Homo sapiens: one gene and its partners. The protein of the gene in region 7 purifies or fractionates together with the protein of the main gene of each other region. This does not show direct contact. Each region holds a gene or a part of one and is shown on either strand. Other genes may lie near its edges.

Evidence for each region.
Region 1: the proteins of GREM2 (region 7) and NACC1 purify together in Homo sapiens (affinity purification with mass spectrometry; one large-scale study listed by BioGRID and IntAct). This does not show direct contact.
Region 2: the proteins of GREM2 (region 7) and ANKRD52 purify together in Homo sapiens (affinity purification with mass spectrometry; one large-scale study listed by BioGRID and IntAct). This does not show direct contact.
Region 3: the proteins of GREM2 (region 7) and RNF123 purify together in Homo sapiens (affinity purification with mass spectrometry; one large-scale study listed by BioGRID and IntAct). This does not show direct contact.
Region 4: the proteins of GREM2 (region 7) and NOTCH2 purify together in Homo sapiens (affinity purification with mass spectrometry; one large-scale study listed by BioGRID and IntAct). This does not show direct contact.
Region 5: the proteins of GREM2 (region 7) and MKLN1 purify together in Homo sapiens (affinity purification with mass spectrometry; one large-scale study listed by BioGRID and IntAct). This does not show direct contact.
Region 6: the proteins of GREM2 (region 7) and ZZEF1 purify together in Homo sapiens (co-immunoprecipitation; 2 studies listed by BioGRID and IntAct, with this or other methods). This does not show direct contact.

What each region holds. Positions count from the first base shown.
Region 1 is NC_000019.10:13,124,764-13,128,263, reverse strand, and holds part of NACC1 (nucleus accumbens-associated protein 1), read right to left. Parts: intron 1-3,500. UniProt on the Homo sapiens protein: Functions as a transcriptional repressor. Seems to function as a transcriptional corepressor in neuronal cells through recruitment of HDAC3 and HDAC4. Contributes to tumor progression, and tumor cell proliferation and survival.
Region 2 is NC_000012.12:56,244,885-56,248,384, forward strand, and holds part of ANKRD52 (serine/threonine-protein phosphatase 6 regulatory ankyrin repeat subunit C), read right to left. Parts: intron 3,341-3,500; coding exon 3,139-3,340; intron 2,891-3,138; coding exon 2,803-2,890; intron 2,727-2,802; coding exon 2,609-2,726; intron 713-2,608; coding exon 493-712; intron 307-492; coding exon 219-306; intron 106-218; coding exon 22-105; intron 1-21. UniProt on the Homo sapiens protein: Putative regulatory subunit of protein phosphatase 6 (PP6) that may be involved in the recognition of phosphoprotein substrates.
Region 3 is NC_000003.12:49,710,057-49,713,556, reverse strand, and holds part of RNF123 (E3 ubiquitin-protein ligase RNF123), read right to left. Parts: intron 1,079-3,500; coding exon 901-1,078; exon of another isoform or gene 665-900; intron 45-664; coding exon 1-44. UniProt on the Homo sapiens protein: Catalytic subunit of the KPC complex that acts as E3 ubiquitin-protein ligase. Promotes the ubiquitination and proteasome-mediated degradation of CDKN1B which is the cyclin-dependent kinase inhibitor at the G0-G1 transition of the cell cycle.
Region 4 is NC_000001.11:119,919,663-119,923,162, reverse strand, and holds part of NOTCH2 (neurogenic locus notch homolog protein 2 isoform 1 preproprotein), read left to right. Parts: intron 1-384; coding exon 385-527; intron 528-716; coding exon 717-927; intron 928-1,353; coding exon 1,354-1,450; intron 1,451-2,765; coding exon 2,766-2,934; intron 2,935-3,500. UniProt on the Homo sapiens protein: Functions as a receptor for membrane-bound ligands Jagged-1 (JAG1), Jagged-2 (JAG2) and Delta-1 (DLL1) to regulate cell-fate determination.
Region 5 is NC_000007.14:131,393,876-131,397,375, forward strand, and holds part of MKLN1 (muskelin), read left to right. Parts: intron 1-3,391; coding exon 3,392-3,500. UniProt on the Homo sapiens protein: Component of the CTLH E3 ubiquitin-protein ligase complex that selectively accepts ubiquitin from UBE2H and mediates ubiquitination and subsequent proteasomal degradation of the transcription factor HBP1.
Region 6 is NC_000017.11:4,014,031-4,017,530, forward strand, and holds part of ZZEF1 (zinc finger ZZ-type and EF-hand domain-containing protein 1), read right to left. Parts: coding exon 3,341-3,500; intron 2,745-3,340; exon of another isoform or gene 2,603-2,744; intron 2,437-2,602; coding exon 2,293-2,436; intron 486-2,292; coding exon 317-485; intron 159-316; coding exon 60-158; intron 1-59. UniProt on the Homo sapiens protein: Histone H3 reader which may act as a transcriptional coactivator for KLF6 and KLF9 transcription factors.
Region 7 is NC_000001.11:240,609,356-240,613,545, forward strand, and holds the start of GREM2 (gremlin-2 precursor), read right to left. Parts: upstream 2,801-4,190; 5' UTR 2,529-2,800; intron 1-2,528. UniProt on the Homo sapiens protein: Cytokine that inhibits the activity of BMP2 and BMP4 in a dose-dependent manner, and thereby modulates signaling by BMP family members. Contributes to the regulation of embryonic morphogenesis via BMP family members.

The DNA of each region.
Region 1 (3,500 bases), on a different chromosome or scaffold from region 7:
TGGCAGCTTGAGCTGACTAAGACAGGCCTGAAGCACCATCTATTCACTGATGCCTCCCCCACTGGAGTCTTTGGCCCGGACTTCCCTGTGAATGCCAGACTCGCACACACCCCAGACACCTCCACTCAACAATTTCAGGACCTGGCTCCAGTCCTTCCCAAAACCTGTGAATGCCGTAGCTTCACCAGCTCTGGCCCTCCTCATTCAGATCCTTGGATTCATCTTCAACTCCTTCAAAACCACTTTGTACTACCTTGGCCCCAAGTGACACTGCCTGGGCCCCTACAATGCTTTATTGGGGCCCCTGGCAGTCTGGCCCTGCTTGCTCTCGGACCTACTAGAATGGGAATGGGACAGCCATAGCTCTTCATACTCTCCCTGGTCACATAAAGCCCTTTCTCTACTCTTTTGCTTTTGGAGACAGGGCCTTGCTCTGTCACCCAGGCTGGAGTACAGTGGCACCATCATAGCTCACTTCAGCCTCAAACTCCTGGGCTCAAGCAATCCTCCCACCTCAGCTTCCCAAATAGCTGGGACCACAGGAGCTACATCCAGCTAATTTTTTTTTTTCTTTTTTTTTTTGAGGCAGAGTCTCGCTCTGTCGCCCAGGCTGGAGTGCAGTGGTGGGATCTCGGCTCACTGCAAGAATCGTTCAAGCGATTCTCCTGTCTCAGCCTCCTGAGTAGCTGGGATTAAAGGTAACCACCACCATGCCTGGCTAATTTTTCTATTTTTAGTAGAGATGGGGTTTCACCATGTTGGCCAGGCTGGTCTTGAACTCCTGACCTCAAGTGATCCGCCCACCTCCCAAAGTGCTGGGATTACAGGCGTGAGCCACGGCACCCGGCCCATCCAGTTAACCGAAAAAAAAAAAAAAAAAAAAAAAAAAAAAGTATATGTATATGTATGCTTTTTTTTTTTTTTTTTTTTGGTAGAGACGTGATCTCACTATATTGCCTGGGCTGGTCTCCAACTCCCAGCTGAGTGTTCCTCCTGCCACAGCCTCACAAAACCCTGCGATTATAGGCATGAGCCACTGCGTCTGACCAACAAAGCCCTTCCCGACACTAACTCCCTGGCTTGATTCTCCCTGCTTGACTTATCCTTCTTGGGAGTTCCTATGATTTATTTAGCAAGCTGGCCATTTTTCTTTTTCTAAAAAAAAATTATTTATTTGTGCATTTTTTAGTAATAGAGACGAGGTCTCCCTAATGTTGCCCAGGCTGGTCTCAAACTCCTGGGCTCAAGTGGTCCTCCTGCCTTGGCCTCCCAAAGTGCTCGGACTACAGGTGCGAGCCACCACCCCTGCCAAACTGGGCATTTTTTGGGGCTTCATGTCAGTTTCCCTGGGGCAGGGAGTTTGCCTGTGTAGATCCCTGTTGTGTCCTCTACCCCTAGGACCTGGCCAGGTACACAGTGGGTGCTCACAGTCCTTCGTGGAAAAAATGAACAAAGAATTACTTCCATTCCTCCTAACCTAACTCCCTGTTTTGTTCCACATTAACGTGGCTCAAACAGGAATAGGGCTCAGAAGCATTATCTGTGGCTGGGCAGACAGACGACCTCCTTTGACAGCTGCCAAGGTGGGTAGCCAGCAGTCAGGGGCCTATTGAGACCGCAGTGTTACCTGACGAATTGCTCACACTGCCGGTGGATCCTGCCATCTGCAGGAAGGGGGCTGGCAGGATGATTCCTGGGAGTAGTAACTGTCAGCTCTTAGGGAAGAGAGCTGAGGAATTCCCCAGCCAGCATGGGCCTGTGAGAGACTGTCAAAGGCACAGTCCTTTCCTGATGTCTTTCCAGGGAAGCTGTGACATGGCCGTCGACAGATGCTATGGTCTGAATGTTTGCCTCTTCCCAAAATTCACATGCTAAAGCCTATCTCCAATGTAGTGGTATTAAGAAGTGGGGCTGGCTGGGCACGGTGACTCACGCCTGTAACCCCAGCACTTTGGGAGGCTGAGGAGGGCGGATCACGAGGTCACGAGGTCAGGAGATAGAGACCATCCTGGCTAACATGGTGAAACCCCATCTCTACTAAAAATACAAAAAATTAGCCAGGCACAGTGGTACGTGCCTGTAATCCCAGCTACTCGGGAGGCTGAGGCAGGAGAATCGCTTGAACTCAGGAGGCGAAGGTTGCGGTGAGCCGAGATCGGGCCAATGCACTCCAGCCTGGTGACAGAGCAAGACTCCGTCTAAAAAAAAAAAAAAAGTTAGGCCTTTCAGCCAGGTATGGTGGTTCACGCCTGTAATCTCAGCACTTTGGGAGGCCGAGGTGGGCGGATCACCTGAGGTCAGGAGTTGGAGACTAGCCTGGCCAATATGGTGAAACCCCATCTCTACTAAAAATACAAAAATTAGCTGGGCGCAGTGGTGCACGCCTGTAATCCCAGCTATTAGGTAGGCTGAGGCAGAATTGCTTGAACCTAGGAGGTGGAAGTTGCAGCGAGCCAAGATCACGCCACTGCACTCTAGGCTGGGCAACAGAGCAAGACTCCATCTCAAAATAAAAAAGAAGTTGTTGATCAAAAATTTAAAAAGGGCTGGGTGCAGTGGCTCACGCCTGTAATCCCAGCACTTTGGGAGGCAGAGACAGGCGGATTACCTGAGATCAGGAGTTCGAGATCAGCCTGGGCAACACAGTGAAACCCCGTCTCTACTAAAAATACAAAATTAGCCTGGCATGCTGACACATGCCTGTAATCCCAGCTACTTGGGAGGCTGAGGCAGGAGAATCGCTTGAACCTGGGAGGCGGAGGATGCGGTGAGTCAAGATCGCACCACTGCACTCCAGCCTGGGCAACAAGAGTAAATCTCCGTCTCACCAAAAAAAAAAAAAAAAAAAAAAGTGGGGCCTTCGGGAGTTGATTCAGTCAGGAGGGCTCTGTCCTCATGAATACGAACTGTGCCCGTATAAAAGAGGGGGAGCTTGTTTGTCCTTGCCACCCTGTGCAGATACCTAAAAGGTGCTATCTATGAGAGATGGGCCCTCACTAGACACGGAATCTGCTAGCACCGTGATATGGGACTTCCCACCCTCTACAACTATGAGCAGCTCATCTCTGTTGTTTATCAATGGCCCAGTCTGTTTTGTTTTTTTGAGACAGGGTCTTGCTCTGTCACCCAGGCTGAAGCGTAGTGGTGCAATCTTGGATCACTATAGCGTCAAACTCCTGGGCTCAAGTTATCCTCTCACCTCAGCCTCCTGAGTAGCTGGGACTAGGGATGTGTGCCACCACGCCCGGCTAATTAAAACAATTTTTTGCAAAGACGAGAGACATATGTTCTCAGGACCTCCTGAGGGCTGTGTCACGGGTGAAAAACAAATTAAAATTAAATTTTTTTGTAAAGATGAGGTCTCACTATGTTGCCCAGGCTGGTCTCGAACTCCTGGGCTCAAGCAATCCTCCCATCTCAGCCTCCTAAATGCTGAGGTTAGAGGCATGAGCAATGTGCCTGGCTTCCAGTCTAAGGTATTTTATTACAGCAGCCCAGAT
Region 2 (3,500 bases), on a different chromosome or scaffold from region 7:
CCCAAGTCTTCCATCACTCACCGTCCTTTGGCATCTCGGCTGTTCACAATCTTGGCACCCAGAGCTCCCAGTAGCATCTCTGTGGTGCTGTCTTGGTTATTAATCCTAGAGGAAGAGGGAGGAGGGGTCATCAGGAAGGACAAGGGAAGTAGACTACCTGTCCTAAGCTCAAGTCATGGGCCCTCGCGAGAAGGGCTGATGCAGCAGAAGGGACTTACACTGCACAGTGCAAAGGAGTGAAGGGGTTTCCTTCCAGGTACGAAAACGGGCTGTGTTCAAGTAACAACTCCAGACAATCTTCATGTCCTGGGCACGAGGAAGGAAGAGTAGTGATGGAGAAAAACGGCAAGGTTCCCTGTCTGTCCTGTGTCTTGACACTCCATTCCACTTCCAGATTCAGATCAACCCAGGTCCCCCCCAACAACCCACCTGTCCCCCTCTACACACACTCCAACACATGCTCCTGTGCCTGTGGAGGCCCCAGTCTAGTACCAGTGTAGGAGGCCCAGTGCATGGGCGAGTATCCGCTGTAATCCACCCCGGCATCCAGGGGATCTGTGGAAAGGGCAGCCTGCAGCAGGGTCCGCAGTACTGCAGTGTGGCCACAGGCTGAGGCCAGGTGAATGGGCGTGCGGCCCTTAAAGTCTCGGCACAGCACAAATGCGTCGTGGTCCAGCAGGGCAGCCAGGCAGTCCTCACAGCCAGTCACTGCCTGTGAGTAACATGGGGGTGTGAGGGGGATGAAAAGCTCCTCCTTTTCCACTGGCCTGTTGCTGGAGTCTGGCTCAGGAGTAAGAACCACTTCCAGGGCTCCAATCCTTGTCTTTTTTTTTTTTTTTTTTTTTTTGGAGTCGGAGTCTTGCTCTGTCGCCCAGGCTGGAGTGCAGTGGCATAATCTCGGCTCACTGCAACCTCTGCCTCCCCGGTTCAAGCGATTCTCCTGCCTCAGCCTCCCAAGTAGCTGGGATTACAGGCAGGTGCCACCATGCCCGGCCAATTTTTTTGTATTTTTAGTAGAGACAGGGTTTCACCACGTTAGCCAGGATGGTCTTGATCTCCTCACCTCGTGATCCGCCTGCCTCGGCCTCCCAAAGTGCTGGGATTACAGGCATGAGCCACTGGCCTCAATCCTTGTCTTTACAACAATAATTCTTTCTTTTTTTGAGACGGAGTCTCACTCTGTCACCCAGGCTGGAGTGCAATGGTGCGATCTTGGCTCACTGCAACCTCTGCCTCCCAGGTTCCAGCAATTCTCCTGTCTCAGCCTCCCAAGTAGCTGGGATTATAGGCATGCACCACCATGCCCAATTAATTTTTGTATTTTTAGTAGAGGCGAAGTTTCACCATGTTGGCCAGGCTGGTCTCAAACTCCTGACTTCAGGTGATCTGCCCGCCTTGGCCTTCCAAAGTGCTGGGATTACAGACGTGAGCCACCATGCCCGGCCCTTTACAACAACAATTCTAAGTATTAGGGACCCACATCTCCCTCCTTGACTCTCTCTATGCCAGCAGACAATCAGGATACTAAGAGTTAATACTGGAGCTCTGGAGTTAATACTGGAAAGACTAAATGGAGAGAAGGAGACTAAGGGATCAAAAAATCTTATGGGAGGAGGAGGCAGCTTAGGACAGGTGGTCACGGAAGAGGATCTAGGTTGTGGCGACATTATGCGATGGGTTGGGGCCAGCAGGGTATCCCAGGTAGAGTCTGGGTGGTGAGCACTCAGTTGTACGTGATTACAAAGCACAGATATTGGCCAGGCACAGTGGCTCACGCCTGTAATCCCAACCCTTTGGGAGGCCAAGGCGGGTGGATCTCATCATCAGGAGATTGAGACTACCCTGGCTAACACGGTGAAACCCTGTCTCTACTAAAAATACAAAAATTAGCCAGGCGTGGTGGCAGGCGCCTGTAATCCCAGCTACTCGGGAGGCTGAGGCAGGAGAATTGCTTGAACCCAGGAGGCGGAGGTTGCAGTGAGCCGAGATCACGCCACTGCACTCCAGCCTGGGTGACAGAGCGAGACTCTATCTCAATAATAATAATAATAATAATAATAATAATAATAATAATAATAATAATAATAATAAACAAAGCACAGATATCAGGGAAATCAGCTGGGGACGTCAGGAACTCATCCTGGAGCAAGCACAAAGCTCAATAAAATCCTGGGCACAGCGTGGGTCTGGTGGCTCATGCCTGTAATCCCAGCACTTCGGGAGGCCAAGGTGGGGGGATCACTTGAACCCAGGAGTTCAAGACCAGCTTGGGCAAGATGGTAAGACCCCCATATCTACAAAAAATACAAAAATTAGCTGGGCATGATGGCATGTGCCTACAGTTTCAGCTACTTAGGAGGCTGAGGTGCGAGAATCACCTGAGCCCAGGAAGTCAAGGCTGCAGTGAGCTGTGATAGTGTCACTGCACTCCAACCTGGGCAATGGGAGTGAGACCCTGTCTCAAAAAAAAAAAAAAAAAAGAAAAAGAAAAAAGACGGCACAAAATCCTGGCTTGCCTCCTAGACAATTGGATTCCCTACTGCTGGTGAGTCCCATGCTCCCACACTGAGGCCCATGTGCAAACAATCCCCCCTAGAAGCTCACTCACCCCGCGGTGGAGGGCAGTGCGGCCCCGGAGGTCAGCAGCATCAGCTGTGGATCCTTTCTCTAGCAGCAGATGTACACAGTCCACATGGCCATTCATGATGGCCAGCATCAGTGGGGTCCTACAGAAGGGCAGGAGGAGGAGTGAGGATCCCGCAAGGACTGGAAAACCTGCACCCCACCCTGGCCCACACTCACTGTCCATAGGCATCCATGACATCTGTGATGTCAGCTCGTTCCCCACTGTCGATCAGCAAGTGCAGGGAGTCAGTGTGGCCAGAGGCAGCTAGGGGAAAGGGACCCCGTGTCAGGGCAGGGCCAGGAGGAAGAAGGGAGGCAAGGTCAAGCCTAAAGGACTTGGGGTCAATGTTACAGAAAGACCTGGGCCAGGGAGAAATCTCTGAGGATAGGAAGCTATGAATCAGGGCTTGAAGTCTCCATTCTCCTCACCCTACTCCACTTTCCAGCCCCATTCCCATCCAGGAGGGATCTGGCATGGCAAGGGTAGGGCAGCAGCCTAAAGTGGGCACTAACCAGCAGCGTGCAGGGGTGTCCACTTGCGCTTGCGCTCCTTGATGAGGGCAGAGGCGCCGTGGGCTGTAAGCACCTCCACACACTCAGTAGAGCCGCGCTCCGTGGCCAGGAAGAGTGCGGTCCGGCCCTTGTGGTCCCTTACGTCCAGATTCACCAGCGTCTCCGCCAGCGTCTTCAAGGCTTCACAGTGACCGTTGTAGGCCTGGCAAGGTGCAGGCAACCAGTGCACACAGCTCGGGACCTTCCCTGCTCCTCCCTTCCCCTTCTCTGCTCTTGGGGTCCCTGGGAAGCTCAAGGTCTTAGTCCTTGACAAGCTCCTTGGGCCCCTTAAGGCTTCCTACCCTGCACTGTGCTTATCCCCT
Region 3 (3,500 bases), on a different chromosome or scaffold from region 7:
TTTGGCGAGAATGGCAGCCAGGCGGGTCAGGGTCTCTTCATAGCCTGCAAGGGTGGGAAGTGAGACGTGTCGGCTGGGAGTGGGGGCTCCAGAGGCAGGCATGTCAGCAGGGTGGGTGGACTTGGGTAGCAGGCTCTAGAGCTGGCTCCCAAGGCCAGCCTGGACCCAGGGTGGCATCTGGGGACATCGGGCAAAGCATTCATTGGTGGCTGTGCAAGGGCTAAGGCACAGGCTCACTGTGAAGGGATGACAGGCCCTGGCAGGAGCCCTGACCTGGGCTCAAACCCATCTCAGCACACACACCTGATGAGCAGTCAAAGCTCCTTGGGCACTCACAGCTCTGTCTTTGAAGACAAAGCCTGCACTGAGGCCTGTGGCTGGGCAGGGGGCAGGCTAGGGGCCTGACAGCTCACTGCCTGATCCAGACATACACTGCCACGCCCAGCCTGGAATCAGCAGGCTGAGAGGCCCAGGTTCGGATGTGGACCCTAGCAGGGTCCACCCCCTGCTGTGATTTACCAAGACAAACCATTCTGCCCCTGACCAACTGCTACGCTTTGTGACCAGTGCCAGGGAGTCAAGGTGCAAGGCCAGCTGGCTCCTGGACCATGGCAGTTGCTCATAGCACTAGGAAGGAAGTGAAAGCCAAGAGGTCTACACCCACCGTGTTCCATCTTGTCTGTTTTCCTTTGCTAGGGAGCTGTTGGCTCTGTGGCTGCAGGTCCCAGGGCAGGGTGCAGACGTTTGTTTGCTGCAGGGTGAACCACAGAGGAAGCTCCTCCCCTCCCCGCCCCCCACAGAAGTGTGTTGCTGGGCCACAGAGGTCTCAGACCAGGGCTCCTAGGGCTCACACTAGAGACCCCTTTTCTGCTTCTGCCTCAGCCTGAATGGTTCCATCACCTGGGAGCTCCTCCATGCTGTGCACGGGACCAAAGTAATTCTTGAGAGCACTGTAGCTGTTGATGGCCACGCTCAGGTAGAACTCGGGCATGAAGGCAAAGAGAGACCCTGTGCGATCACCGTGCTCAATGGTCCGCAGGCAGACGCGCAGCAGCCAGTAGATGTCCAGCATCTTCTCCTGCAGGAGGCACACGGGGTGCTGCTGGGTTGCGCACCAGTGGGGTCTTGGGGGCATGTCCTGGCCTGGGGATCAGGAAAGGCCTCCCCAGGCCTACGACAGCACAACTGAGACCTGGATTTCAGGAAGCATGAGCAGTAGCTCAAGCAGGGCAATCAAGTCCTCAGCAGGCAAGAGGGACGCACTCAGCCTGGAGGGCGCATTACTGTGACCCAGGCCAGAACTCTGGTCAGCATATTTGTAAGCAAGTTTTTTTTTTTTTTGAGATGGAGTCACCCAGGCTGGAGTGCAGTGACGCCCTCTTGGCTCACTGGAAACCTCCGCCTCCCAAGTTCAAGGGATTGTCTTGCCTCAGCCTCCCGAGTAGCTGGGACTACAGGTATGTGATACCGCGCTCGGCTAATTTTTGTATTTTTAGTAGAGATGGGGTTTCGCCATGTTGGCCAGGCTGGTCTTGAACTCCTGACCTCAGGTGATCTGCCTGCCTCAGCCTGTAAGCAAGTTTTAGGCAAGAGGGTGCTGTGACTGGAAGTCTGTGTGGAAAAGTGGAGTACAAGGTGTGTGAAGGGCCCAAGAGAGCTGGCGATGGTAAGCAGACAGGCAGAAATTTGATCTGGAGTGCAAAGGAGAAGGTGGTGGGAAAGCAGGGGGCAGTGTGACTGGTGGAACAGAGGTCACAGGAAACAGACAAAACCTGCTGAGGGCCCTGCTCCCCACAATGTGGTTTCCACAAAGTCTATGTCAGGGTCTCACAAAGGAGCCCAGGCAAGAATGAGGCCTCAGGCCCCAGCCCAGACCCACAGCACCCGTGTGTCTTGGAGTGCGGTCACAGCACCTGGGCTTCACACCAGCTCTCTGATGTGCCCTAAAGCCCAAGGAACTGAGGAGAAGATGTAAGCAAGAGGTTAGGGGAGGGCCTAGGCGCAAACCTAGGCAGCGATGATCCTGCTGCTACAGAAGGCCAGCGAAGACTGTGTCTGGTGAGGGGCTGGCAATGGCCCCATCAGAGCTAAGGTATCAATGCAAAGGAGATGGAAATGTGCCGGCCGGATTGAGATGGGGGCAGACAGAGACCCTGGTGAGACTATTTCAGAGATGGGGAAGAGCCTGTGCTGGAGGGAGATGAAGGGGAAGATGTAGCAGCTAAGACAGAGAAAGAAGGAGAGAGCATAACTTTTGGGCACATATAGCGTCAAGGCTGGAATGCAGTGGCACAATCACAGCTCACTGTAACCTGGAACTCCTGGGCTCATGTGATCCTCCTACAGGTATGTGATACCACGCCCTGCTAATTTTTGTATTTTTAGGAGAGATGGGGTTTCGCCATGTTGGCCAGGCTGGTCTTGAACTCCTGACCTCAGAGTAGCTGGGACTACAGGTATGTGTCACCATGCCCCGCTAATTAAATTTTGTTTTTTTTGTAGAGATGGGTTGCCCAGGCTGGTCATGAACTCTTGGCTTCAAGTGATCCTCCCGCTTCAGCCTCCCAAAGTGCTGGTTTACAGGAGTGAATCTCTCCATTAATAATGGGATTAGAAAGACACAGGTGAGTTAGTGCTGAAGATGCAGAGAATGAAGGCAGTTCAACATAATAAAGACCATATATGAAAAGCCTCCATCTAACATCACACTCAGTGGTAACAGACTATAATCCCTCCCTCCCTCAGACCAAGAACAAGACAAGTGTGCCACTTTCTCTACTTCTGCTCAGCACAGTCCTGGAAATCCCAGCCAGAGCAACTAAGCATGAAAAAGAAAGGAAACCACACTGGAAAGGATAAAGTAAAATTATCTCTGTTCACAGACATGATTTTATAAGTAGAAAATCCTAAAGATACACACACACACACAAAACCCCAACTAGGATTAATAAATAAATTCAGCAAAATTATAGGATATGGCCAGGCGCGGTTGCTGAAGCCTGTAATCCCAGCACTTTGGGAGGCCGAGGCAGGCGGATCACCTAAGGTCAGGAGTTTGAGACCAGCCTGACCAACAAGGTGAAACCCCATCTCTACTAAAAATACAAAAATTAGCCGGGCGTGGTGGCGTATGCCTATAGTCCCAGCTACTCAGGAGGCCGAGGTGGAAGAATCGCTTGAACCTGGGAGGCAGAGGTTGCAGTGAGCCAAAATCTTGCCACTGCACTCCAGCCTGTGCCACAGAGCGAGACTCCCTCTCAAAACAAAACAAACAAACCAACAAACAAAAGATATGCAAATGGCCAATAAGTGCTTGTAAAGGTACTATTTGTCATAATGTCACTAATCATTAGCAAAATGCAGAACCACAATAAGGTACCATATCCTACCCATTAGGATTTACTATTAAAAAAGTAGAAATTGCCGGGTGTGGTGGCTCATGCCTATAATCCCCGCACTTTGGGAGGCCGAGGCAGGAGGATTCCTTGAACCCAGGAGTT
Region 4 (3,500 bases), about 120 Mb from region 7:
GACTAAAAACACACAGGGATGTATGTTTAGAGTAGCACCAAGTACCACTGAGTAGGTATGAAAGAGTGGAAGAAGACCACTGAAACCTTCGGGAGGAAAGCACAGCTTCTCACTTTGTCATGCATTGCCTCAGCCAGAAGGCTTTGGTCAGCCAGACTAAGGAAGGTGGGACATCCTCTATGTGGGAATTAGTGTTTAAGATCTCAAGGGACAGTATTCTAATTCCTGAGATATGTCTTAAGGCAGCATCCCAGAGGTGGGGACCTGATGCTGAAGGGGAGGAAGGGAGGCTCCTGTCACCCTTTATGACATGTTCTGCCTGACCTGCACTCTTCTGTTTTACCCCCATCTCTCCTCCTCCGCTTCTCCCTTGGCATCCCACAGCTCTAAAGTCTTTCTGGAAATTGACAACCGCCAGTGTGTTCAAGACTCAGACCACTGCTTCAAGAACACGGATGCAGCAGCAGCTCTCCTGGCCTCTCACGCCATACAGGGGACCCTGTCATACCCTCTTGTGTCTGTCGTCAGTGAGTGGCACTGGTGTAAAGGGGAAAGGTGGCGGGGGAAGAGTGTCAATTGGGGGAACAATTTTCATTATGTAGCCCTCTATTTTTTCAGGACTGTTGAGGTCAAAGTTGCCCTCTAAATGAATCTAATGCTGACATTGAGAGGTTAATGTTTTATTCAGCACTTTCCCTGTCTCTGTGGACTTTCAGGTGAATCCCTGACTCCAGAACGCACTCAGCTCCTCTATCTCCTTGCTGTTGCTGTTGTCATCATTCTGTTTATTATTCTGCTGGGGGTAATCATGGCAAAACGAAAGCGTAAGCATGGCTCTCTCTGGCTGCCTGAAGGTTTCACTCTTCGCCGAGATGCAAGCAATCACAAGCGTCGTGAGCCAGTGGGACAGGATGCTGTGGGGCTGAAGTAAGAGGCATTGCCAATAAGCCACTATTCACAGTATAAGTAGGGATGACTAGAAAAGCATATCTTGTTGAATCATGATTTTAAATTCTAAGCTCTGGGCATTTACTCACATTGACCATGATTCTAAATGCCTTGTGAGTGACTGAAACCACAGTCAGAGCGTGGGTGCATCTATTCTGTGTATATTATCACAATGCCGCCCAGCTTCTGTGTTGAGGTGCCCTTTTGTTGTAAGCTCACGATCAATGGGAAGGGAAAGGATGAATGCCAAGGGAATGTCACCAAAAATACTGCCCATCTTCTCTGGGCCAAGACCCTGCAAAATTGTAATATAGCCACGGGAGTGTGTCATGGTGGAAAGTGTTGAAAACCACTGTATTAGTTTATGACTGCCATTCTTATTTTTTCTTTTTATAATCATATTAGAAATCTCTCAGTGCAAGTCTCAGAAGCTAACCTAATTGGTACTGGAACAAGTGAACACTGGGTCGATGATGAAGGGCCCCAGCCAAAGAAAGTAAAGGTGAGGTGGCCATGGTAGAACCACCATTGTCAGCCATTATCTGGTTACATTTCAAATTTCTGTCCTTTAGCTCCAGAGTGTCCTGAATGGGAGTAAAGAGTGATAGTCTTGATGTCTTACCCAGACAATAACTATCCTAGGTTCTCCTAAACAGCAGGAATCCTTAGGACGTAAATGACCTTGGGTTACCTATATATGCTCTTCAAGAATAACTCTTTAAAAATACTAAGCACATCTGTTTCCTTTAGTGTTATGCTGGCAGTAGTCAAGTCAGGAATGGTGTGTGTAGATGGCAATTCCTTCATGGCCACATCTCTTCCTTATCCTTTATGGGCACTTCTTCTATAAGAGAAGATGAAATTAAGCAGTGGAAGAAAGCCAGTTATCATTGACATTGGCAAAATGAAAGCCAGTGATCATGGCAAAACGTTGACATTGGAGGCTCCATACCTTGAGCCCAGGAAACTAAAGCCATATAAAAGCAAGTGGTAGATTGGGCTGAGACTGACATGAAAAAGCAGACCATCCATCCACAGCTGTGCATGGCTGGGAGCTGGTGGAGCATGATGGTTAAGAAGATTGCTTTAGTTAATATCAGAACTGGATTCAAATCCAAAACTCTGCCGCTTAGTAGCTGGCAAGTTACTTAACCTCTTTGTAATTATCCTTCCTTGTAAAATGCGGATAATAATAACCCTTTCCTCTGTGAGTTGTTGTGTTGGCATATGTGCCTTATCTACTTTCCTGTCATGTACTAGGTATTCAGTAAAGGGTAGCTGCTTTTAAATTATCATGATTATTATTATTGAATAGTCTTTCCTGAGTGCTTACTACATGTTGGGTGCTATGTTGAGTACAAGGAAACAACCTTGAACAAGGCTTATTTTCCCTTCTTGAGAAGCTTACAGCCTTGTGGTGGAGATGGCCATGTAGTGCTGTGTAAGCATTTAACACATGATCAGTTAAGCAGAGGTAAGCAGAGTATGCTTTTTAGGGCCAACAAGAAGAATTAAAGTTTACTTTCTAGTGGAGGGTAGGAAAAGTGAGAATTGGGTGCTCTGGAGATCTAAAGGCTAAAGCCTAGAGTTTGGGATTGGGGGAGGGAGTTGTCTAGATGATGCAGGAAAGGTAAGCAGGAGCCACATCACGAGAGCAGTGGGAAGCCAAGGCTGAGGTAATCCTCTGGAGGGGTGGAGGAGTAGGAAGAGAGAAAACAATGGGAGATAAGCAGCGGTGGTGGAGGCTCTGGACACCTTCTGATTAGCAGTTTCTGGTGGTGGCCAGATTGATAGGGAGCATTGTTTTCACCTTTCAGGCTGAAGATGAGGCCTTACTCTCAGAAGAAGATGACCCCATTGATCGACGGCCATGGACACAGCAGCACCTTGAAGCTGCAGACATCCGTAGGACACCATCGCTGGCTCTCACCCCTCCTCAGGCAGAGCAGGAGGTGGATGTGTTAGATGTGAATGTCCGTGGCCCAGGTCAGCACCGGGCCTCTTCCCCTCTTCACTGGGCTGTGTCTGCCCATGGTTCCACATTGTTGTCCCTGTGTTTGCCCTGTCCAGTCATAAACCCCTTCCCAATTTCACAGACTCTAAATCAGCTCGAGGAAATGAATGCTTAAGGAATGTAGCCACAAAGAAATTATCAGCTCAGAAAGGGAAGGATTTCACATTGCTTCATGTACAGTGTGTTGAGACTAAACAGGCTGATAAAATGGGTTAGATTGTAGTGGGATAGAAAAATAATATCCCAAAGCAGAGGATAGTTAGTATCTTATGCATGTATTAATTGTTCTATTAATATTAGATATTTTTAAATGTCCAATTAAAATAACAGCACTTAAACTTGAACAGAAAAACGTGTTTAGAGAAGAGCCCCCAGCTTAAAAAGACTTGTACTTTCCCATTATTCTTTACAGAAATGATACTATCAGAGGAAAAGGTGGCAAATGTGAAACTAATAACCAGTTACTACAAGAAGTACAGGGAATTCTTTGCCCCTAAGAATAACTTTAGTCAAATAGAGCTGTTTCAACCATAGGGTT
Region 5 (3,500 bases), on a different chromosome or scaffold from region 7:
TCTGCCTCCCAAAGTGTTGGGATTACAGACATGAGCCACTGCACCAGGACCAATAAATGAATTCTTAATGAGACTTGGACCTGGAAATCTCTAATATTTTATGTCTGGTGACATATATAGACTATATTCTTGGTGCTTTTAGTTTAGAATCATTATTTTATTCTGACTCTTATACTACTAGATGGTTATTGCTATGTGATTTAGTAGATAAACTTTTAAATGACACTGCTACATAAAGAAACACTAAAACAATAAAGATAATTTAATATTTGTTGTTAAAAAAAAACTTTTTGAAATGTGTGTTGTTTACATACATAAACAGAAAGGCATATTAAATATCCCAGCATTCCTTCATACATCCTTATGGCTGGTTGCTACTGCCTGTGTTTTTATTCACACAGCTTCCTTTATATCAGTGGTCCCCAACCTTTTTGACACCAGCGACCAGTTTTGTGGAAGACAGTTTTTCTGTGGACCCAGAAGTTGGGGCAGGGTATGGTGGAGAGATGGTTTTGGGATGAAACTTTTCCATCTCAGATCATCAAGCATTAGATTCTCATAAGGAGTGCACAACTTAGATCCCTTGTATTTGCAGTTCATGATAGAGTTTGCAGTCCTTTGAGAATCTAATGCCAACGCTGATCTGACAGGAGGCAGAGCCCAGGCAGTAATGCTCCCTTAACACACTGCGCACCTCCTGCCATGCGTCTGGGTTCCTAACAGGCCAGGGACCTGTACAGGTTTGGGCCTGGGGGTTTGGGACCCCTGTTTTAGATGACAAAAATATATAAAAGTATCATACCCCATACATTTTCCTTATTCAGTCGGATATTGGAAATCATTACGCCTGGTATCAGCTATTCTGGATATTCTATTTTGATGCTTCATCAAAACTCTACAAATGTTAGTTTCTTAAAGATAGTTGCATTATTGATTCTGAAACTGCATCAGTGAATCTGTTGTTACATTAAAATTCACTGGTCTATCTTGGACTTTTTACCCAGTGGTCTGTCTTGGACTTTTTACCCAGGTGTGATTTTGTAACATTCATTGGTTATTTAGAAAATATGGTTCACTGAATTACACAGATCTCCCAAATGTTGAAACACTTCATTATGTAATATTTTAAAAATCACATTTATTAATATCACATCTAATCTCATTTAAAAAAATCTAAGTGTTGGGAATCAGTTAAGCTCACAGTGGTGGGTACTTATCTTCCAAAATTCTAATTTTTCTCTTGAAAGCTTGGTTTTTATCCTTGACAGCAAATATCGTTAAGTATTTTCCTTGAAATAACATGTAAATGTTTGGCAAATACCCAAATCTGAATAATCATAGGTTGTCTGTTTTTCTTTCAAGAATAAAATGGCATTCCATGAAAAATAAATTGATTTTTAAACTCACAACTTAAATAATTGTACAGGTCCTTTCCTTGAGATAACCATTGTGGTTTGGTACACAACAAAAATGCTTTATATGCAAATCTCATTTTGTCACACAGGATACTAGACAGATGTGTACTTGATGGGAATTTAATAAAATTAATTTTTCTGTGCCATTGGTAAAAATTATTTTTATTTTATTTTATTTTATTTTATTTTATTTTATTTTATTTTATTTTACTGCCAGTGTATGGTGGTGAGGCATACAGTGCACCTTGTACTTACTGAGCACTAATAGTACTTTTTGGTGCCATTAGTTTGGTACCAAGGTGCTAGCAGTTTTACACACCATTGCTTTTGTACCATTAGTGCAATGTTGCTATTATTAAAAGGCTAGAAAAGTGTTTATTATGTTATTTTGAAAAATAGTTGTTTTGAAAAATAACTAGTGTTGTTATTAAAAAAAAAAGTAGTTTTGACTACGTGGGACCTCTGGAAAGACCATTGGGATTTTGATTGACATGATGTTAAATTTATAATTAATTGGAGAGAGCTACACATTTACAATATTGAGTTTTCCTATATAGGAACATAGTATGTTCTTTCATTTATTCAATTATTCACTAAAATTTTATATTTTCTTATAAATATTGCGTATTTTAAGTTTATTCTGAAGTATTTTCAGCTTTTTGCCATTATAAATAGGACTTTTTTGAGGTATATTTTCTAATTGGTTATTGTAGGTATAGGAAAAGTTGATTTTTGTGTGTTTACCTTGTTTACAAATAAAAAGTTTTTCAATTGAATATATATATATATTTTTTTCCACTGAGACACAGTCTTATTCTGTCGCCCAGGCTGGAGTACAGTGGTGTCATGGCAGCTCACTGCAACCTCCACCTCCTGGGTTCAAGTGATTCTCTTGCCACAGCCTCCCAAGTAGCTGGGATTATAGGCGCACGCCACCATGACTGGCTATTTTTTCTATTTTTAGTGGAGACAGAGTTTCACTGTGTTTGCCAGGCTGGTTTTGAATTCCTGGCCTCAAGTGATCCTCTTGCCACGGCCTCCCAAAGTGCTGGGATTACAGGCTTGAGCTACTGCTCCTGGCTCTCTTGAATTTTTTTAGGTAGACAGGTCATCTTTAAATTACAATTCGTTTTTCTTAATTTGTTTGTTTGTTTCCTTATTGCACTGGTTGAGACCTCTAATTAGTGACAAATAGTAGAGATATTGGACATCTTTGTCTTGTTCTGACTTGAGTGGGAATATTTAGTATTTTCCCAGTAGGTTTAATTTTTAAGGTTTTTGATGCTTTTTAAAAAAATCTAAGGAAATTTTTTATTGCCTTATATTGCTTATATATTGAGGGTTTAAAAATAATAATGTATTTAAGTCATCAAATGTGTTTTTTCTTTTATTTTGTTAACGTGGTAGATTATATTAATATAGCTCCTATTATTTATTGAACCATCATCTTTCCATTCCTGGAATGAGATCTGTTTGGTTACAATGAAAATCTGATAGAATTTTTTGCAACTTTTCTCCTTTTAATTTGTATTTAAATATGTATTCATAGCTGTGATTGGCCTTAAGTCTTTTTTCTTCTGATTTGGATTTCAGGGTTGTGCCACTGATAAATAATTTCAGTCTCTTTCAGTGTTCTGATGTAGACTAAATTCTAAAGTAATTTTTTGCTGCTTGTACATTTGATAAAATTTACCTGTTAAATCATCTAATTCTGGTGGCATTTATTTGGGGGTAGACATGTGCACATTTTTAATTTATCTTACAGTGTTTTTATTAACTAAGGAAATCTTATGGTGGCATGGGTCATCTGTTTCGTTTTACTGTTGTAGCCTTAGCACCATGCTAGTCATATAAAAGATGCCCAGAAAATTCGTTGAATGAATCCTTATAAGGTTGAATAGTGCTTTTACTTTGCTAAAGTTTTATTTGAACTGTGTTAATATTTTTCTTCTTCTTTTTGTTTTTTCTCCTTAAAGTTCCACTCTTGTCCTGGGGACCCAGCTTTAACTTTAGCATCTGGTATGTTGAACTTAGTGGCATTGATGATCCTGATATAGTACAACCTTGTCTCAACTGGTATAGCAA
Region 6 (3,500 bases), on a different chromosome or scaffold from region 7:
ACAGCCATGGAGTGTCCCTGGCAGGCAGATGGTGTGAACGCAAAGCCCAGAGCACACACCTGTCTGGAACCGCCCCAGGTGTCCGGCCGTCACGGTGAATCTGTAGCCCCACTCGGTGTTGCTCATGTCGGAGGTGAAGCGGTAATACAGAGTGTCTCCTAGGCACACAAGGATCAGAGGCCCATCAGGAACTGAAGCAACAGGGAATGGCAGCAGTGGTGTTGGGTTTCAACATTCTCCAGTAAGTTCCCTTCTCAATATTAAGTTTAAACACTGCCTGTGAAGAACCTATCTAATCGAGTATTTGTTTCACTACCTGGAAGTTCAAAATCTTTCCACTTCTGCTGAGACCCGCTGAAGCTGTGTCGGTCTTGCTGGAAGTCACTGCTGCTGGACATGGCTAACTCGTCACAGCCCTCCTCTGTGTTGCACTGAGAGTCGAATTTGATTGAGAGGTAGATGGCACCAGGAATGTGAACTTTATCCTAGGGAGGGGAAATGGAGAACACATCTGTCGATGCTGCTCACTAGACACTGACTGCAGCTGTCCCATGCCGAGTCCTGTGGCTGGACCCGGGTGTGTGAGAATGAGTGAACCACAGCCCTGGCCTCCAGGAGTGCAGAGTCCAGCTAGGGCGAGGAGCATGCACAGACTGCAAATATGGTGCGAGGGAGGCACAGCGGGGCAGGCAACACGGGGCCCCAGAGAAAGAGTGTCAGGCTGCTGTGAAGAGTGAAGAGGACAGGAGGACCCTGTTAGGAGAAGGCGGGAGTGGGAGACAAGGTGGACCTGAGTGCATGGGGTGCATTTCAGACAGGGTAACAGCCCTGTGAAGGTCTAGCATGTTCAGGGAATGGCAAGGAGCTTGGCGTGTTTGGAGTAAAGGGTGTGCTACATGGGCACGTATGCTTGGGAAGCAGGAACAGGGACAAGACCTGACTCCAGAGAGACTGGCAGGGGCAGACACTGAAGGCCCTGGGCATGAAAATGAGGCACTCAGACTCTGGACAACAGGGAAAACCCTGGAAAGCTTTGGTGAGGCTTGCACAGTGTAGCATCACTGACAGCTGGTGTGGAGCAAGGCTGGGCTGAGGCAAAAGTGAGGAAATCAGAAAGTAGCAGCAAAAGGAACCCCAGAGAAGGGCAACGGGTGTCCAGGGTCAGTGGAGAAGACAAGACCTCTTTGGGATCGAACCTGGTGGCTGACCACATGTGCCTGTATGGGACCAAGGGAGTGGGGCTGGAGCCCAGGAACATGACAAGAGAAGAGACTTGGAAGAAAGACAGGTTATACTTCTGAAAAACAAAATCTCAGCTGGCCAATAACCCAGTTCTAAATCGGTTTTCATCATCCACCTTCGCTGCTGCAGGTGCCTTCCACTCAGAAGTAGATGCCTGGGCAACTCCAACATTTCAGTTTTCTCTCCAACATTTTTAAAAGCGCTAATGGGGGCCAGGTGAGGTGGCTCACGCCTGTAATCCCAGCACTCTGGGAGGCCAAGGCGGGTGGATCACCTGAGGTCAGGAGTTAGAGACCAGCCTGGCCAATATGGTGAAACCCCGTCTCTACTAAAAATACAAAAATTAGCTGGGCATGGTGGCAGGTGCCTTTATTCCTGCTACTAGGGAGGCTGAGGCATGAGAATCACTTGAATTCGGGAGGTGGAGGTTGCAGTGAGCCGAGATCACACCACTGCACTGCAGCCTGGGCGACAGAGTGAGACTCCGTCTCAAAAAAAAGTGCTAAAGGGACTACATGGCCTTAAGTCAATGAGAATAACGGAGGCTGCCCCATTCCTGCCTCATCAAAATGCCTACCTCCCTGCCCAGGCACAAAGTTAAGGATGGAAAAGATGAGACTCTGATTCAGTTCTGGGAAATTTTAAAAAGGGGCTGTAGTATCCACGGTGGGGGCAGGTCATGAGGTGGCAGCTGAAGAGTGAGGGTCCAACCTGGACCACATTCAGACTCACTGTCTCACTGTGAAGCCAAGGACTCACTCTGAGGAGCCTGCCGCAGGGAAAGTAAAGCTCTCCTCCAGGGCTAGGTGGCCCATTTTCTTCTATTAAAACAAGAAAAGTCCGGAGAAGAGAAGACTTGCTTGTACAGAATCCCTGGCCTCAGGGAGGCAGACTGCAGTTTGTTCAAGGAAGCACTTTCCTGGACAGGTCTCTGCTGTCCAGCGGGAGAGAGCCACAGAGGGGCTGAGCATGGAGGGGCTGAGCACGGAGGGGCTGACGAGGTCTCTGCGGCTCAGTCGCTCTTATGGGGCCTGCCGGCCCCAGGCTTACCTCGAAGTTGGTGTTGTTGTTATACGGGTGTTTCGACTCCCTCACTTGCACCTCCATTCCTGGCTCCTCCATGAACTGGCATGCAGCCAGGGCCATGGTCCCCAGCATGTCCTCTCGGCAGCCCTGGAGCACTTTCTGCAGGATCTGGTGGGAAGCAGACAGATAAGGTCAGGGCCTGCAAGTGGCATCAGGAAGAAGGGACAGTTTACTTCAACCCAAGCTCCACCCAAAGGTGCTGGCATCATCTTAGACCTAGGACGAGCCTCTGTGACTCCACCACCCAAAACCAACTCCACCAGCCACCTCTCACTTGACCAGGCTCTTGGTGTCAATCAGGACACTGCAGTCCTTTCAGAATGATGCTACTTAGAGGTGGTCTGAAAGAACTAACTGAACCAATCATAAAGGGTCCTGGTCCTTGAAGGAGTCCCCAGCCAAGCAGGTGGATTGGCCTATGGATAAATAATGACCACACAATGTAATCGATGCCTGGAGTGAGGTGCAGGGTTGGGAGCTCTAGGTGGCAAGAACTGTGGGAGGACACGCCTATGCAAGGGCCTAGTAGAGGCAGGGTGGCTCCCTCTGTCCCTTCCGAAAGATAGATATGCTAGAGCAAGCCTGCCAGCACCTGCAGGGCTGCAAGGCCGGGAAAAGACCTCGAGGTCTGGTGGTGTTCTCAGATGGACAAAGCAAGGCTGAGAGGCCAAATGAACTTCCTCATGGACTGCGTGTGTGTGTGTGAAGGTGGGTGAGGGACAGGATCAAAAAGGAGCTACCGAATGTGCCTCAAGATTTCTGCACTTGGAAACTGGGAAGATGGCGACAAAGCTTTCTGGTTCAGCTGGAAATCGCGCTCAGGGCCCCTGAGTTCCTCACTAGCCCAATCCTTGGGAGAGGATACAGTGACCCTACCTTTGCTGCATTCACACCTGTCAGGGAGCTGCACAGCCACACAGGTAGCCTCGCTCCAGGAAGCACTCACTGGAGGAAGCCTGTGGGGCAGAGGAAGAACCTGGTGGGTGAGCACAAGCTCAGTCTGCATAACTACCTTCTCCCACTCATGCTTTTCTTCCAGCTGCATGAACATATCCAAAATGTAGGTCATATGGGCAGGGCCACTGAGCTCCAGGATGTCCTCGCTCACTGGCACGTGGCTAGGCCACTCGGCGAGCAGGGATGCAAGCACGTGGCGGGCGTACAGGACAGCT
Region 7 (4,190 bases):
TCAGTGTTGAGTCTGAGGACCACATTTTAGCCTGACATGTGATCAAAATTAATTCTAGACATTATTAGGCCTATTATACCTAATATTATTAGAAACAAAAGAACTATCAAGAAGCAGCTAATCCAAGAAGAAGATGGCACCATAGGTCTAATTTTTAATTGAACACCTTGTCCTTCAAAACAATGTCTTGTGTGACCCATTTAAGCCGAGTGCTGGGCACGTTTTCCCTGGTTGAAATAATTCTTTTTTGTCCGTAGATATTTGAAGGACCCTGATACTGAGAACATGCCTGCAACCTGGCACGTTGCACAGGGGCAATTGCTGTAGCAACACTGAAGTACAAAAGTGGCTGAACTAATCTGTTGAGTGCCTGTGCCTCTGCAGTCTCTCAGTGTCTGCCCTTGACCCAGACAGGCCAATCCTCTCCATATCAATAAGAACTGAGAGTCTAATACCATTCCTTTGCATTAGAAAAAGAGATGTTTACTTTAAAGAGATTTAAAGGCATGTACCTTGTTTAAACTTTACCAAACTTATAACTCGAGGGTATGTAAAGCTCTGGCTGGCTCTACTAAGATTCATAGAGAATGAACTGTTGATTACCTCTCTCGGTGAAGAATGATAGCAAAAAACAATGAATAATCACAGCATTGTTTATATTTATCTTTGAAAAGCCATCAGTGTCTCCTAGTCTATACAAAGTGAATATAATCCGTCTCACACTCACAAAGTTGCTACCAACACACCCAACATTGCTTTAGAGTTAGAAAGATAAGACAGAAATAGGTCCCAACTTATTGCAGCTATTTTATTTATAAAAGATTGACAAATGCTCACAATCATACAAAACAACTCTTTACCAATAGAATGTAGTTGGGTCGATTAACTTATATTTATTTGCACAGATCAGTTCTTTACAGTTTCTTTCTGATGTAAAAGGAAAAAAAATTTATCTATAAAGTTAAAATGCCTTCTCCCAAATATAATATTCACTTGCCATGTCTATACTTTGACACGATTTCAAAAAGCACCCAGTTAAATCATTCAGATCAGTCGATGGGCAAAAACTATGAAGTTTTCCTGACTCTATGGTAGAGCTAAGCATGCATTTCCTTTAATGACAGAAAGAACATGTTCATCTGATAAGAAACAAAAAACAAACAAACAAAAAAAGGTCGATATAAATTCTCCACTGTGATATACAACACAAATACCTTTCTTATAACTTTCTTATCTTCCTTGGTCGGGCACATGTCTTGGGACAAAGGCTACCTTGAAAGCTAAGCACGGCTGAATGGTGAGTCGATTGCGAATTATCAGTGAATGGTTTGGATATGATCGACTAAGACTCCACTGGGAAGAGTGCTGTTTAGACGAAAGGTAAGGTATTTGATTGCCCCTGCACCTGCTGCAGAGCCATTCTCTGGCTGTACTGGAGTCCCAATCTGTTCCACTGCAGAAAAAGCGCTTTTCATAGGGATTCAGAGCCACATGAATACCAGCCAGCCCTTGAAGACTGCAAAGCAAGACCAATTTTTTAACTGACTTCTTGCAGTCCCCTCTGGCTTTTCCCAGGAAAGACTGAACTCATTAAGCAATGCTAATTTAATCACAAGTCATCAAGGGGTGGGGAGTTATATAACTATCTTTAAAATTTCAAATCAAACATGATAAAATCTCAGGAAATAGATTTTTTTAACAAAACCCACACCTCAAAATAAAAAAAAAAAAGAAATAGAAGTTTATGAGTTTTAGGATCAAATAAAATAAAATCAAACATCAATATTTTCTTACAACTATCACATCTACTAGATAGTTCCAATTCATGACTTTTTAATGTAGTAATATGTGAGATCCTGGAACTGAACGTGCCTGGCGTGCAGAATACAAATGCATTTTTAAACTCGTAAGACAATGTAGAAATAAGTCAGGTACACAGGAAGGATCACTGACAATCACGTTAAAAAATAACTACCTCCCTTCTCTCTTCTCCTTCAACCACAGCGTAGTGATAATAGTGATATTTCCCTCATGAGGCGGGTGCACCTTGGCCATATGCTTTAAAAAATCAAAACTCTGCCGAAGTCCGCTGTGGTTCCTATTCCTGTAGGGAGGATATTAACCTGGTAGGTAGGTGGGAGAGGTTCGTAGCCCGCTTTCTAACAATTGGATGGTGTTTGCCTCGCTATAGTCATGATTAGAATGGCGGTCACCAAGAGGTATTTATTGGTGGGATGACAACATATTGGTATTGACGTTATTTAAAAGAGAAAGAAAGAGCGATCACGGTCAAGTTTGAAGGTCCTTATGTTACACCCACGCATAATTCAATAGGTGAATAAACCTTGTGGCCCCCAGACACACGCCAACAGCTTGAATTACCCGGGGTGAAACCGGCGAGACGTCCACTCAGGGCTTTCGGTCCTGACCAGCCACGGAACAAACAACGTCAATTCATTCTAAGTGCCTGGTGAAGGTAGAAATCAGAAACCGTGTCTGTGTCACGTTAGTCGTGACAAGCTGCGTACCTGCAATGACGTGATGGAAGCCTCCTCCTCGGGTCCCTTCTCTCTCTCTCTCTCCCTCTCCCTCTGCCTTCTCTGAGTTCTCTAGTCCACAGCGGGGTCTAAGTTTGGTCTCCCGCCGCCGCTTTCAGTTCGACCGCAGCCAGACTGCAGCAGACGCCCATAAGAGAAGCGCGCCGGCTGAGGGTGCAGGAGAGGCGAGAGCGCGCCCCGCGCCGCGCGGTCCCAGGCTGGCTGCTCCTGCAGATGTGAAAGGAGCCCGGAGACTTAGCTCTGAATCCTCTCGGCGCTGCATGGGGATATTATCAGAGTCTGGGATTTCTATTGGCTCTGAACACCAAACAAATCACACCAGCCACCCCCCTTCTCTGTTTCACTCAGCGCTTGTTTCTCATCTAACCCACAAACATTGCAGCCACACCACACACTTCAGTCGCTTGCAATGTTTCTCTTTTCCTCCTTCCAGTCAGTGGATTTACAACCCTGTGGTCAGCTCTAACATTTTTTTTAGCAGACTTCCAATTCTAACCTTCTTGTTTATGTAGAGAAATTCTCCCTCCATCCCCTAAACCAGAAAAAAACAAAAAACAAAAAAAAAACACTCATTCCCTTCAGATCTTCTTCCTTTTGCTGATGGGTTTCCAATGTGAAGAATGTAGAAAGCCTGTGTGTGATATGTCTGACATTCTCATACACGTGCGCTTACACACACACACACACACACACACACACACACACCAGGCTCCTTTTGTTTGCAGTAACTGAGGCCAGTGAAATAAAAAGCAAGCTGAGCCTAATAACCTAAGTGAGAGCTTAACTAATAAAATCTTGAATGAATTCAGTGCAAAACACCCATTGCTTGAATTTGTTTTCTGTTCCAAATAGTACTTTGGTCATTATTATCCTGATTTTTGTTTATTGAATGCAGAGGTTTCTAATGCAAATCAGACTCTTCAACATCCAGAGAACATAAAACAATGACGCCAGACCAATTCTTGTGCTCCATCGGCTTGGTGCGTTATACCAGAAGCGTATTGTGACGCCTAAGTGCTTGCTCTTTTCATTATTTTTTGAACTTCTCACCACTGATCATCTCAGGACTGAGACTCCCTTAGTGTGATTCACCAGCCAAAGACGACTATTCAGACTCTGCTGATAGAGGTTCCTGGATGAAAATTTTTTATCTGTATGTGTCAATAGAGATAAACCTTTGGCCCCTTGGCAGGGAAAGGGCCCAAGAAAAATCTGAGATCTTACAAACTTGGCTGGGGAAATTCAGAATAAAATAAAGTTTCAGTGTGTCTTATAAAACAGACCCTCCCTTAGACTTTTCCCCAAAATCAATTTCACTGGTGCTTATGGAAATTTTAATGACAGTTATTCTTGACAAGAAGCCATTGCTTCTGAAATCTCTGAGCTCTGTTTTGATTTTTGACTTGAATTTTTTTTTTGCAGTGTTATCCCTTTTGTATGCTATTTGGTATTTGATATTCTAGTTCCAACTCAACTCACAGCACATTGGGTTGCAAATTCACAGGAAATAACAATTAGTTCTTGAAATATACTATCACCAAACAGACTACCTGCCTTCTTTCTTACGTGGGCACATTACAGGAATTGTGAAATGCAGCCTTATTCTCAGAATGGGCCTGCCTGAAATCAGCT